Linked DNA regions of Homo sapiens: regions 2 and 3 are each reported to be linked to region 1. The links are microRNA targets in miRTarBase. Many come from high-throughput screens and were not tested one by one. Region 1 holds a microRNA gene; each other region holds the end of a gene's coding sequence.
Evidence for each region. The annotated mature microRNA hsa-miR-219b-5p reads AGAUGUCCAGCCACAAUUCUCG and lies in region 1 at 2,707-2,728, opposite strand. An mRNA with a match to its seed (bases 2 to 7 or 8) in the 3' UTR can be bound and repressed. Matches are read on the target gene's strand: a 7mer-m8 pairs with bases 2 to 8, a 7mer-A1 pairs with bases 2 to 7 and ends in A, and an 8mer does both.

Region 1 (4,149 bases):
TCGGCCTCCCAAAGTGTTGGGATTATGGACACCAGCCATGGCACCTGGTAATCAGAGACTATTGTTGCCCAGTCCATCTTGGTTGTGTTCATGCCAGGCTGGGGTGGGCTGGGACTGGATTATAATGTATTAATATAAGGTGACACAGAGTGTCTCCTGGGTCTAGCCGTTTTAAGTGCATTTACATCCATCCCCTCTGTACCCACTAAATAAAGGCTTGGAAACTAGAGTGTGCAGCAAGTCCTAAAGCTCTGGGTTTCTAGATCCCTAGTGGGTGCGGTCTCTGGAGGTTGGGGATTGGGGCTGCATGCCTTCTGTCTTATCCTCCAGCATGGTCTTCTCAGGGAGTGACCCTGTGACCTCCAGAATGCTCCCCCTCCCTCTCCAGCTGGAAGCTCCAGGGAGGAGCCTAAGGAAGGAGGGCTCTGCAGTTTCTTCATCTGTAAAATGGGGCTGATAACAGCACTTACTTTCCAGGGTTGTTGTGAGGAATCAGTGAGCTACTACCTTCAAAGAGCTTAGTGCTTGGCACACAATACACTCTTTGCTGTTATTATTACCAAATGGAGCATTCCCAGGAGTTGGGATCTGGTTAGCAGGACTCCCTCCCTGTAAAACCCGGGCTGCAAGAATTACCTCCCACAAGCAACATTCTTTCAACTTTTATAAGAAACTCCAAGAAGTCTATGTGGCTCATTTTAAAGTCACCGGGCATGCGTGCAACCACCCACAGATATTTAATGATTGGTTGGGGGGAGGGCACTGTACTAGGCCCTGGAGGCACAAAGATCCGTAGGACCCGTTTCCTGTCCTAGGGAGGAGACTCAGACAAACCGATATTCACAATTCAGCCGGGCACGTGGCAAGGCCACCCAGAGATTGTGAGGACAGGAGAGCATTTCAGAGCAAGGCAGCTTGGTGTGCCAGGACAGAGGCAGGGGTATTCTGGGTGCTTGGAGAACTCTGGGGTGAATGGAAGGCAGGCTGTATGGGAAAAATGGCCACACACTCCCACTTTAGGGTGTGAGGTTCATTGGGAAAGACAGGCTGGGCTTTGGGGGTGAGAAGCTGGCTATGTATTTACCCAATAGACTGAGAACCGTCTCTGCCAGACCAGGCTGGGGGTGGGGCTGGGGGCGCATTAGACCTTGGACAGAGCCCCTGCTCTCCTGGATGGGTGGACTGTCCAATGGAAGAGACAATGACAAGACAAGCATTCACAGATTCCACGCCCCTCTCACACCCACCTGCTCCCCTCCCCCCACCCTTGCTGCTAGCCCCGAGGTACCCAGGAGCCTGCTGGAGCCTGGGAATCAAGCTCTGGTCCTTGGTCGGGGGAGGGGGCAGGCTCCAGCTCCCGCGTGGGGTGTGGTCTCCAGGGATGGCATCCTCAGCCCAGGGGTGGGGACTGTACCCCCTTCTCCTTTATCCTTCAGCATGGTCTTCTCAGGGGGTGACCCTCTGACTTCCAGACTGTTCCCCCTCACCCTCCAGTGGAAGCCCCTGGGCAGGGGCCTAGGGAGGGGGCTCCAGAGGCCTTTGGTTTCCATGCAGCTGGGAGACAGGGGGTGGGCCGTAAAAGACTCTGGGGTGCCCTGGGTGCTCTTGGAGAGCTCAGCCAAGGCCGGGGCCTGAGTCAGGTCCACGGGAGAGCAGGGCCGGGATGCTGGTGCCTGGCCCAGGAGAAGGGAGGGGGCGATGGGCAAAGGGGTCAGGCCGAGGGAGCAGGCGGGGCATCGGGAGTTGAGGGTGCCGAGTGGGGGTGGGAGGACGAGGGGTCCGGCCGGTGCAGAGGGGGAGGCGGCCCCCGGGGAGGGGCACGCTATGTCTTTAAGAGCTGCCTGAGCGCAGGTTGCAGCTGCCTGGCCAGCCCGAGAGACAGCGGAGATTCATTACCCGCCGACACAATGACCATTGATGGCCCCGTGGCGTTATTCAAATCCAGTACCAATTGCAGCCGAGCCCCTTTCTCCGCGCCAGGCCCGTATTGTTGGAGCGGCCCACTAAAAGCCCGCCCCGGCCCCGAGCCGCCAGAGGCGCCTGCTCGGGTTCAGCCTTGCGCCTCGGCAGCCCGCCGGCTCCCAGTCCGGCTCCACGGGCGCTGCAGGTGACCCGGCGGCGCATTCCAGCACTCCCCGCCGCCCGGGCCACCGCCGCCACCGCCACCGCAGGCGCCCCGGCCGCGACTCAGCCACAGGAAAGCGGAGAGCGCCCGAGCCGGTGCGTGCGCGGGGCTGGGCGGGGGCGGGGGACCCACGAATCCAGCAGCCCGGACCCCGGGCTCGGAAACGCGACCCGGCCTGGGGCTCCTGCCTTCCGGATTCCCGGAGATCCCAGGCTGGGGGCAGGGAGAGGGGAGTCGGGGTTCCCCAGGCCAGACAGAGGAGATTCCCCCTCGACCTGGGGCGGCGCTGAGACCCAACGCGGGCCACTCTGCGGACTCCGGGCCGCGATCGAAGGAGCCACGCCAGGGGCGATGGGGATCCCCGCACAGGGTCAGGATCCGCGTGCTTGCTAGTCCACCTTACCGCCGGATGGGCAGCCGCTGCTGAGCGCCTGCTAGGTGGTCCGACGCGCAGCTCCGAGCTGTCCTGGACTGGCGCTTTTTAGGAGCGAAGGGGAACCCCGCAGGAGACCAGGGCCCTGAACTCAGGGGCTTCGCCACTGATTGTCCAAACGCAATTCTTGTACGAGTCTGCGGCCAACCGAGAATTGTGGCTGGACATCTGTGGCTGAGCTCCGGGCGCAACAGGGGCGGGGGCCCCAGGGACAGGGCTCAGCGCGGGCGAGACCTCTCGGGGCGGCGGCTGGCTGGCCCCAGCGCGAGGATCGCGGTCCCGGCCCGCGCGCACAGAGACGCCGGTCCCTGCCACCAGCGCCGCCATCCGCATCCTCGTCCTTCTTCCTTCTCTGCGGGTGACCAGTCCCGGCCGGCAGGGTCCTTCAGTCGATCGCGTCGTTTTTCCTCCTTTCAAATTTCGGCCGGAACGAAGCCGGCACGCAGCGGCGGGGCCGAATGTGGTCCGCCCTCAGCCCAAGCCGCATGAAGTCGGGGGTGAAAGAAGAGGCCGGCCGAATGCGCCCGCTAACTCGTTTCGCAGTTGTTCTAACTTATCACCCCAATACTCCCTACCTAAACAAAACAAATCCTCAACCAACCCCTAAATCCCAAACAAACCAACCCCTCCCGCAAGCCCCTCCGGACGGACCGATGGGCTGAGCCTCCTCCAGCCGCTGCCAGGGTCCGACGGGCAAGCGTCACCAACGATGCGCTCCAGCCCGGCAATCTCCTCGGCTTTGGAAATAGAATTTGGAAAAACGAATCCTTTTCATTAAAGAAAAATCTTCGGAGATAGCGGGGTTTTATTTGTTTATTTCCTCAAAAGCAGGGATCAGGAGTTGCTTGGGAGAGGGGCAGTTGGGAGCTGCTGGGGGCTGAGCCCAGGTCACCTGTCCCCTGACCCCTTTCCAGTCTAGGGCTAAAAATGACCTGAAATCGTCTGGTGTGCCTTGGACATGGCCAATTTCAACCACAGTGCTTGCACCCCCATGTGCCAAGAAACCCGGTTTTCCCAGCACCTCCTCCTGCCCTACTCTTCAGTATTAATTGGGGTGTGCTGGGAGAAGGGATATTCCACATCACACCTCCCACTCTCTGCAGCCAGGGAAACGGATCCTAGCGCCCAGTTTCCAGGACCTGAAATCTAGTGTGTTCCAATCAGGTGCACTGATGGGGCCGCTCCTGCAGCTCAGGGGGCTGCAGATGGGGAGGGACCTCCAGGTTACAAGAATCGGACAGGCTGACCTTCTAGAAGTGCAGCTGTAGGGAGCTGTTCCAAGTCTCTTGCTCTGTTCCCTAACATGGAGACCCTGACCTCAGGAACTAGTGAGGGTTGGTCACACAGCCTTTCTGGACAGCACTCAGACCCCAACACTGGCCTTAATTTGCACCCAGACCAGCTCCTCCCCATAGTCCCAACACGGCTGCTCCCACTCCACACAAGCCCAGAGGGTCTCTACCTGCAGTAGTCCTGGAGAAAAGCCCACCAGCCAGCAGGTCATCTACCCCCAAAAGAATGATGTGCACACCCCATCCCCCAACACTGCTGGGACAACCTTTTGCCACTTTCATCTCCACAGGGTGAGAGA
Region 2 (4,000 bases), not on the chromosome of region 1:
TTTTATAGCATTTGGTTTTCCTTTATTATAAATAATGCTTAAGTAAAAATCTTTTTATAGAGATACATTTTTGCATGTGAGTATTTCAGTATAATACATTCCTTCATGAGAAACTAACAAACCAAAAACCATGTTATTTTTAATATCACTTGGTATCTTTAAATAGGGGTCTTTCTACAAACTTTTAGTTCCCACTAATGATGTATTGAAATGGTTGCCTCTTCCCACTTCTCTGATGGGTAGATTTTAACATATAATTAATTTATTCTTGGCTGGACAGAAAGATAATCCTAACTATATTTGGAATACACTTTTTTGCATTATGAAAGAGGTAACTTTTCTGTTTAATGGCATGTGCATTTCTGTACCTATTTGGTGGTTTTTCTCTCCTTTTTTTTCTAATGTAACACTTTTCATTATTATCAATCTATAGATTCATTTTCTATATTTATGTAAACATACATAAGTCACATAGATCAACTATGTATCGACCTTTTAAAAGATTTAAAAATTAATCTTAACCTTTCACTTGCTGTACTTCTGCCTTTATACATTTTTTTTTGTTTTCCAGTGAAATTACTATCTTCAAATAAATACTTTCAAGATTTCATGTCATGATTTTGTTCAAATTTCCTGCCCTAGTATTTTAATACTGTTTTCCAAAAATTATCTTTCTCATATGTAAATATCTTTATCAAAACACACATCTTTAATTTAATTTTAATTTTGGTGGTCTCTATTGAATAATTATTTTCCAAATGAATTTAGGATAAACATGTAAATTCTATAAAAGCTCTTCTTGATATTTCCATTCTGATTGCATTGAATTACTAAATAATGTGGTGAAATCAGGTATTTCTACTAAATTGAATGTCTTCTTTAATCAAAGGTAGTTTTATACTATAGATTTCTGTGAAAGCTCCTTTATTGTATTAATAAATTATTCCATACTTGTTATGTTATTTGGGTTGGGGCAGAGACTGTTCATTTATCACCATAACACATGTTCACTGCTGAGTTCACAAAAGGGAAGAGTCCAGAGCGTGCCGCTCAACTATGTCTGAAAGGCAGAGCTCAGGGACTGGAGTTTGAAGAGAATGAATAATAATGCCAGCTAATAGTTATCGAGCACACTTTAAGCACAAGATACCTTTCTAAGGATTTTACATACTAACTCATTCAATCCTTAAAACAAACTTATGAAGTAGGTTCTATCTCTTACTATAACTTATAGATGAGGACAAAGAAAAATAATCTTTTTCAAAGTCACAGAGCAAGCACATGTTGTGTCCTGAATTCAAACCAGCTGGGTGACACCTCTGCTCATGCTCTTAATCTTTGTATTACACACTTAGAACTATTTTTTTTCTTTTACTACTGTGAAAGTACAGACTGCCACTGGATATTGTTTCTGCTTCAGAATTATTTGTTATTATTTATTCTATATTCAATAACATTTGGAAAGAGGTGTAAGACTGTTTCCATTTTTTAGAAAGATGTTGCATGGTAAATAAGAGTTTTTTCTCTGTCATCTAAAATAGCTTTTTTAATGATTTTCCAAACAATATGTGTGATTCTGAAAGCTTTTGAGATAATAGAAGAATGGTGTACATGAGGTCATCCACCGCCCCCAACCTTCTTCATTACAGGGTACTTTTCACACAGTCAGTTTGCTCTGAGATATTTTTTGGGGGGAATACTTTTTATATTTAACAAATACAATTTATTGTGAGATAAGCCAACATATTATTTAAATTTGGGTAATGTAGACAAATGAGGTCAAAGTTTTGTTACTTGCTTATTTGATTTTCCTTAGACGTAGGCATACCCTTCCTCCTCCTTCCCCAACCCTTAAGAAATATTTGAATATGCTTACTCTTATGCAAAGTGGGAAGAGATGTGATTGGAATGCAAATTTTGAGAAGTATCATGTTAATTTCTAGAAAGAGCATATTGTAGTGTAAGAATACAGTAACACTGCCTGCCAATATGTTACAGTAGACTGCAGGATTAGTTGGTTATCTAGCATGCAAAATTCAGAACTCAGGGCTCTAATTTAATTATTCTAAAATCTAATGCTACCTTGGTGAGGTAAGAGAAATCACAATACCTGGTAATGCAAAAATGAGTAAAGATTTTCTACAGCACACACATTTAATTTTCTTAGAGTAAATTATTACTTTGATTTTTGTAATGAGTTCCATTTATTAAATATTTCGGCTATAAAGTACCAGCCTACTTACTGTGTCCCAGGATGAGTCACTGTTCTCCTGATGTTAATATGTCCATGATTGTGCTAATGACAATTACTCAAAAGATAGATACAATCAAGTGGATAGATCTAACATATGTAGTTTAAGTAAAAAGTGAGAATGGGTCTGAAGGATTTACATGGGAGAAATGCCCATAGATCTAAATGGAAAGACATGGGTCATGTCAAGAGGGCGTCATTCTCAAATTGTCCTCTTTTCTTGGAGCCACACAGAATTTTTGTACCTGTGACGAGAACCTCTGTATGATGCAGAATGGGTTTGAGGTATGGCTTACCTGTTTACTTTTGGAAAGTGGGTGATGTCTTTTTTTTTTTTTTCAAACACTTTATTGAAATGAGTAAAGAAATATACAAGTAGGTAGAACTGGGTATAACTTTGGTATAATGTTAAAATTTGACCAAGTATTTTTAGCCTTCCCTTTCCCCATGTCAGGCCCTTCAATATTCCCTAAGGCTTCAGTGCATTTTACGTTAGTTGGCCTTAACTGTGCTCTTCCATTGTGTTGAAATAATCATAACCTTTGCAACCCTGTTTACTCAGAAGATGTTCCTCATTCCACCCTAAGGCTTTCCTGAATCTCCAAACAGAAGCTATTTATGCTCATCTGGCAATAATAATATGTGACCTATATGTCTTTAGGGACTTAATTTCTCATATTATGCTATTTTATATATCTTTTATACTGCCTTTGCAATGAAATGAAACTATATTCCTTCCATATATATAAACATGCATCTTGTATGCAATCAGTACTGAATACATATTTTGTTAAATTAATGGCATACGAAGCTTTTTTATTGTTTCTTGCTTCACAAATGTATATATAGATGTGTCAATAAAACAATGAGACATTTAAACTACTTCCAATTAAATGATATTTACCTTGCAAGATGAGACTGAACTCTGTTTGCTTTGTGGATTCCTTTAATGATTGATTTAAAGTAGAAGTAAAATTTTAAAAGTGAAGAATTATTACTGGATGTTAGTTGTGCAGGGAAGATAATCAGAGTGGTTGAAAATATGGGGAAGGCGGGGGTGGGAGTTGAACCACATAAGACCTATTTTAGCCCAGGTTACTGTTGAGGGACCCAGTTATACCATAAGTTGAATTATGCCAACTTAAAAACTATAAATCACATGATTTAAATTTAAGGCAGGTGTTGGACTTGACCTTTTACTCCAGCACTAAGAAAGTTTAAAACAGTGTTACTTCAGGATGTATCAGGATGGGAGTTAAGGTCTCCAGCATGATTAAAATCAGTGAAATTTAGCAGAAGCTACTGAACTATAGCAAAAGACATGAATCCAACAGACATCTCCTCCTCATCGTCACAGCATAGAACAGTTGAAAATAACAAAGACCTATTTTATCTCAGTGTCACACAGACAAGTGGCTTTACAGAATAGGATAGTTGTTGAGTGGTTGCATCCCAGATAATGGACTTGTATGTCACAGTCGAAGTATTCATCATAGTAGATGCAGGGGTTAGCTGAAAGAAAATAGTATGGTTTTACAACACAGTCTTTTAAAAATCGCATTTGCTGAGGAAAGAGACCATCTTATTAAAGACAAAAAGAGAAATTTTTATTAACAATTGCTAACTAAATTTAATTAGCATAAGCTAACTAAATCTGAATGCAAAACAGGTGATAAGATCATGTATGAAAAGAAAAAGGTAAAATTTTTGTCTTTGTGTAAAACAAGTTTTTATCACAATTTTTTAAGT
Region 3 (4,000 bases), not on the chromosome of region 1:
ACAGGCGGGAGCTACCGTGCCCAGCTTGTTTTTGTTTTGTTTTTTTTTTTTAACTTAATAGATATTTCTAAAAGTGAGAGACAGAAGTCTTTGAAATTTGACCAGGTTCATCCTGAAATGGGTAGAACCGTCCTAAATTTGAACAGCACTGCTTTATGCCAAGACATCAAGCAACCAATTCCGCAGGTTTTCTGTACTTTGTGGGTTTTCTCTGGCCTTCCATCAGCAGGATCGCCCCACTCGCGTGTAAGGACAGAAAACCATGGTTGACTTTTCCCCTTGCAGGCCTGCCCAGGTGACTTTCAGAAGCCTGGCCTCGAGGGGCTGGAGATTCACCAGCATTAGGTGAGAAATGGATCATGGCACCCGTGTGGAGGAACTGGGGAATTCTGAAAAATGCAGCTCTTGGGGCACAGGGGCCCGGGGTCTGGGTGGGCTTCCCCTGTTCCCTGGGGTGGCCAGGCATGTGACCAGGCAGGAAGCAGACTGGGCAATGGGCCTGCCCTGGGCTTTGCAGCCTCATTGCTCTTGGCGTGAGGAGCTGGGGGTCGGGGGGCGAGGTCACACCTTCCTCACACTGAACATGTGCAAATCTGATCATATGTATGGTCCTAGGGAAGGGCGGGGAGGGAAGAGACAAGGGAGGGAAAGAACAAGGGGATTTGTTCTTGTTTCCCACCCACCCACTTTTATGCCCCAGAGTGGAGGGAAAACAGGAATTTACTCTTCTCCCACGTGGTCTCAGATCCTGTGTGTCTCAAACAGAGCAAGCACCTCATGGCAAAGAGGATGATCGTAGAGTTTACATCTGTCCCTCTTTTTTATATAATTAAAAAACCTGAAAGTTGGTTTGCATGACACTGGACATTACTGGATATACTGTGCACATATTACTACACAGGGAATTTACACAGACCCCACATTCTGTCTTACTGGGTGATTCAAGGACTCTTCAAGGGCTTTTTGATTTGACCCAGCTGTGTCATATGCAGTGATTTTAGAACGAAGCCCAGCCTGAGCTCTGTTGCTTTTAGATTTTTCCTCAATCTGAAGAAAAGCGTTTGGACTGTGGTGTTTGAAAACAAGCCTGTGTGTTCTGCAGTGAAGCCGCACACTCACCCCTTTGGTTCTTTTCTAGGCTTTCTTATCTTCACAGGCAGAAATGGCTTAAACGGGAGTTTCTACAATCGACTAAGCTTCCGACACAGCAGAATCCCACGATCCCACAACCCATTTGTTTTTTACGTGAAACAGGCCTCGGGGGAGAGATTTGAGGGGGTTTTATTCTTAAAACGGCACATTTGTAGAGAATGCCCTTTATATATGTTCTAAAGAAAAGTGTACAAATACTCAATGATTAAAGTGTCTCTGAGAAAGTGGCTTCGGACCACACCAGCATCTGGTCCTTTTGCTGTGACCCACCCCATCCCGGAGCTGGTCGGGTCTGGCTGGATGTGCTGCCCAGTGAGTGCCTCGCTCGGTAACTGCTTGGTCCTGAACATTCTCTCGTTTCAGGAACTGATGAGGTTCTCTTCTTTTGACTGATGGAGATTACAAAACTCTTGGATTCCTGGAAAACAAGACGACAGGCATAGAGTGCTAATGGCTTGTCTACCCCTTGACAGCCCTGTCCTGTGCTGGGGAGGGCTGTGTTTTGACAGGGGTGGAATCCTCTGGCTAGTTCCATAAAAAGACCTGTGTCTGTGATGCCCTGAGTCTTTGAAAGTGACCGGAATACCTCACACTACCCATCTTGCTCATAACCAGTGGCTGCGGCCTTCCTCGGACCATCTATAGATGGAGGATTCTGGGAATGCTGTTTCCTTACCCTTGACATCATTCTTCTAGGCAAGTAAAACCCAGCCACAAACTCAGAGACCACAGCTTTAACAAACACTGACACCTCTGCCCTAACTCTGGGGCCTCTGATGGCTGCCACTGGCTGAATGTGGCCTGCACGTGGGTTTGGTCTGGCTCAACAAAGTTTTTATTTTTATTTTTTATTTTTTTGAGACACGGTCTCACGCTGTTGCCCAGGCTGGAGTGCAGTGGCGCGATCTCGCCTTACTGCAGCCTCCGCCTCCCAGGTTCAAGCGATTCTCCTGCCTCAGCCTCCTGAGTAGCTGGGACTACAGGCATGCGCCACCACACCCGGCTAATTTTCATATTTTTAGTAGAGACAGTGTTTCTCCATGTTAGCCAGGCTGGTCTTGAACTCCTGACCAGCCTCAAGTGATCTGCCTGCCTCCTTCACCCAAAGTGCTGGGATTCCAGGTGTGAGCCACTGCACCTGGCCTTTTTTTTTTTTATCAGTTACTTTTAAAAATGAATTACTTTATCCCTTTATTGGGATGTATTTCCTAAGCCATAAATTTCACCCTCACCATGTTTTTTAAACTATGAATTAATTCACAATACTCACACATTGAGAGATTTCTCATGGACTCCTGGCTTCCTCGGCTATGGGGGCCACTCTGTGGTCATCACAGACCCCACCACCCACCTGTCCTTCCACACCCCTGGCTCCTTTATGTTGCTTCCTGCCCCACAGGCATCTGCATTTAGTACTCATGGAAATACTTACTCTGAATTATACTTCTGTAGGCTAACGTGGCTGGGGAATCTGGGGCGTCAATGAAAAAAGACTGGCCTTTGTCACAATTCTTACCTTAAAAAAGAAACAAACGGAAGACAATTCAGTCCAAGAGGAAAACAGAATGGCCACAAGATCTTGGGGCTCTTTCCGTGCTGGTGACAATGGGAAGATCTTGAGCCCGCTTCACTCGTAATGAAGAACAAAGTAGAAAAGACCAGTGGGGTCTCAGGGACCTTCCTTCCAGCAGGGTCCCCAGCCAGCATTTCAGCGTGGCTAAATAATCAGGTGGTGTACAGAAAATGCAGGTTCCAGGGCCCTACAGAGAACTGATTCAGCAGCTTCCACATGGGCCCAGGAGTCTGCATTTTAAGAGATTAGCTTTTGAGTGAAAGGATCATGAATGCACATGGTTAAAAAAAGTACAGAATGCAAAAGGATATGGCATAAAAGGCCAAGTCCGAAAAGGGCTACTAGTGTTCTAGGTGTCTTTCCAGAAAGATTATGCGCATATAAATGTGCACACTTGCATGTGTGCGCACACACATACACACACTCTCATATACCTAAAATACGAATGGGAGCACATGACACACACATTCTGCCTGCTGCTTTGTCTGTGTATAATTTTATCTTCCAGGTCATCTGTGCTGGTGTCTATCAGTCTGCTAGTCTTTCCCCGCCATGTGGCCATTGTTCCAGTCCCCTCCTATGCACACCCAGGTTTCTCTAGGACCATGTTATCCCAGAGCCAGGTGGACAGGACACAAGGGGCTAGGGGTCAATGGGGGTGTTCTCGCCTCCAGTCTGCCCTGCCAGCCCCCAGTCGTGGGTGGACCTGCCATCAGCTTGCTCTGCCCACTCCCCAGGCCTGAGCTGCTGGCGAAACAGGCAAGTGACTGCACTGCCCATGGCCGGTCACCAGCCTCAGGTGAACCCCAGGAGGGGTTCCTACCTAGCACTCATCATTTCCTCAACTTCACTACTGTGTCGCCCTGTGGGACAGGGAAGTCCAAGTCGGGGAAGAAGCCTGTGGGGAGGGGTTGGTGGGAGATGGGGAGCCCATATGGCCCAGTGAGTCAGGAAAATAGGGTCCAGAGGCAGGGAACATAAGGCCAATTCGCACTTGAGCCATAACAGGAAATGTCCTCTCCATAGGACGTATGCCGTAAATGACTTTGTAACTTTACTTCATCCTTTTCGTTTATATAGGGCGTACCTCAAGTAGAGGGTATTTAAACACAAAAACTCTGTAATGGGGCCTTTGAGCCCCTATTCTCAGGCCCGTTCTCCTCCCACACCGTGGAGTTGACTTTCATTTTCAATAAATCCCTTCCTTCCTTCCTTTCTTTGTGCGTTTTGTCCAATTTTTTGTTCCAGACACCAAGAACCTGGACATCCTCCGCC

Region 2: the mRNA of CRISP1 is a reported target of hsa-miR-219b-5p. The part of its 3' UTR that is shown has no 7-base or 8-base seed match.
Region 3: miRTarBase lists TVP23A as a target of hsa-miR-219b-5p. Seed matches in the 3' UTR shown: 7mer-A1 at 1,833-1,839.

Annotation. Positions count from the first base shown.
Region 1 is chr9:128,391,213-128,395,361 of GRCh38, reverse strand. It overlaps MIR219B (microRNA 219b), which reads right to left and starts at 2,741; the gene lies at 2,654-2,741. URM1 (ubiquitin related modifier 1) reads right to left here. Exons shown (of 5, transcript NM_030914.4): 5 at 3,346-4,149. It overlaps MIR219A2HG (MIR219A2 host gene), which reads left to right and starts at 1,861. Exons shown (of 1, transcript NR_186569.1): 1 at 1,861-3,351. It overlaps MIR219A2 (microRNA 219a-2), which reads left to right and starts at 2,648; the gene lies at 2,648-2,744. RefSeq lists an enhancer at 1,623-2,328.
Region 2 is chr6:49,831,681-49,835,680 of GRCh38, forward strand. CRISP1 (cysteine rich secretory protein 1) reads right to left here. Exons shown (of 8, transcript NM_001131.3): 8 at 2,577-3,763. The coding sequence ends at 3,636. Among named protein-coding and RNA genes, the nearest start is that of CRISP1, 33 kb to the right of the region's middle.
Region 3 is chr16:10,766,617-10,770,616 of GRCh38, reverse strand. TVP23A (trans-golgi network vesicle protein 23 homolog A) reads left to right here. Exons shown (of 8, transcript NM_001079512.4): 7 at 286-345; 8 at 1,516-3,942. The coding sequence ends at 345. It overlaps NUBP1 (NUBP iron-sulfur cluster assembly factor 1, cytosolic), which reads right to left. Exons shown (of 11, transcript NM_002484.4): 10 at 2,585-2,668; 11 at 1,266-1,570. The coding sequence ends at 1,512. Among named protein-coding and RNA genes, the nearest start is that of NUBP1, 25 kb to the right of the region's middle.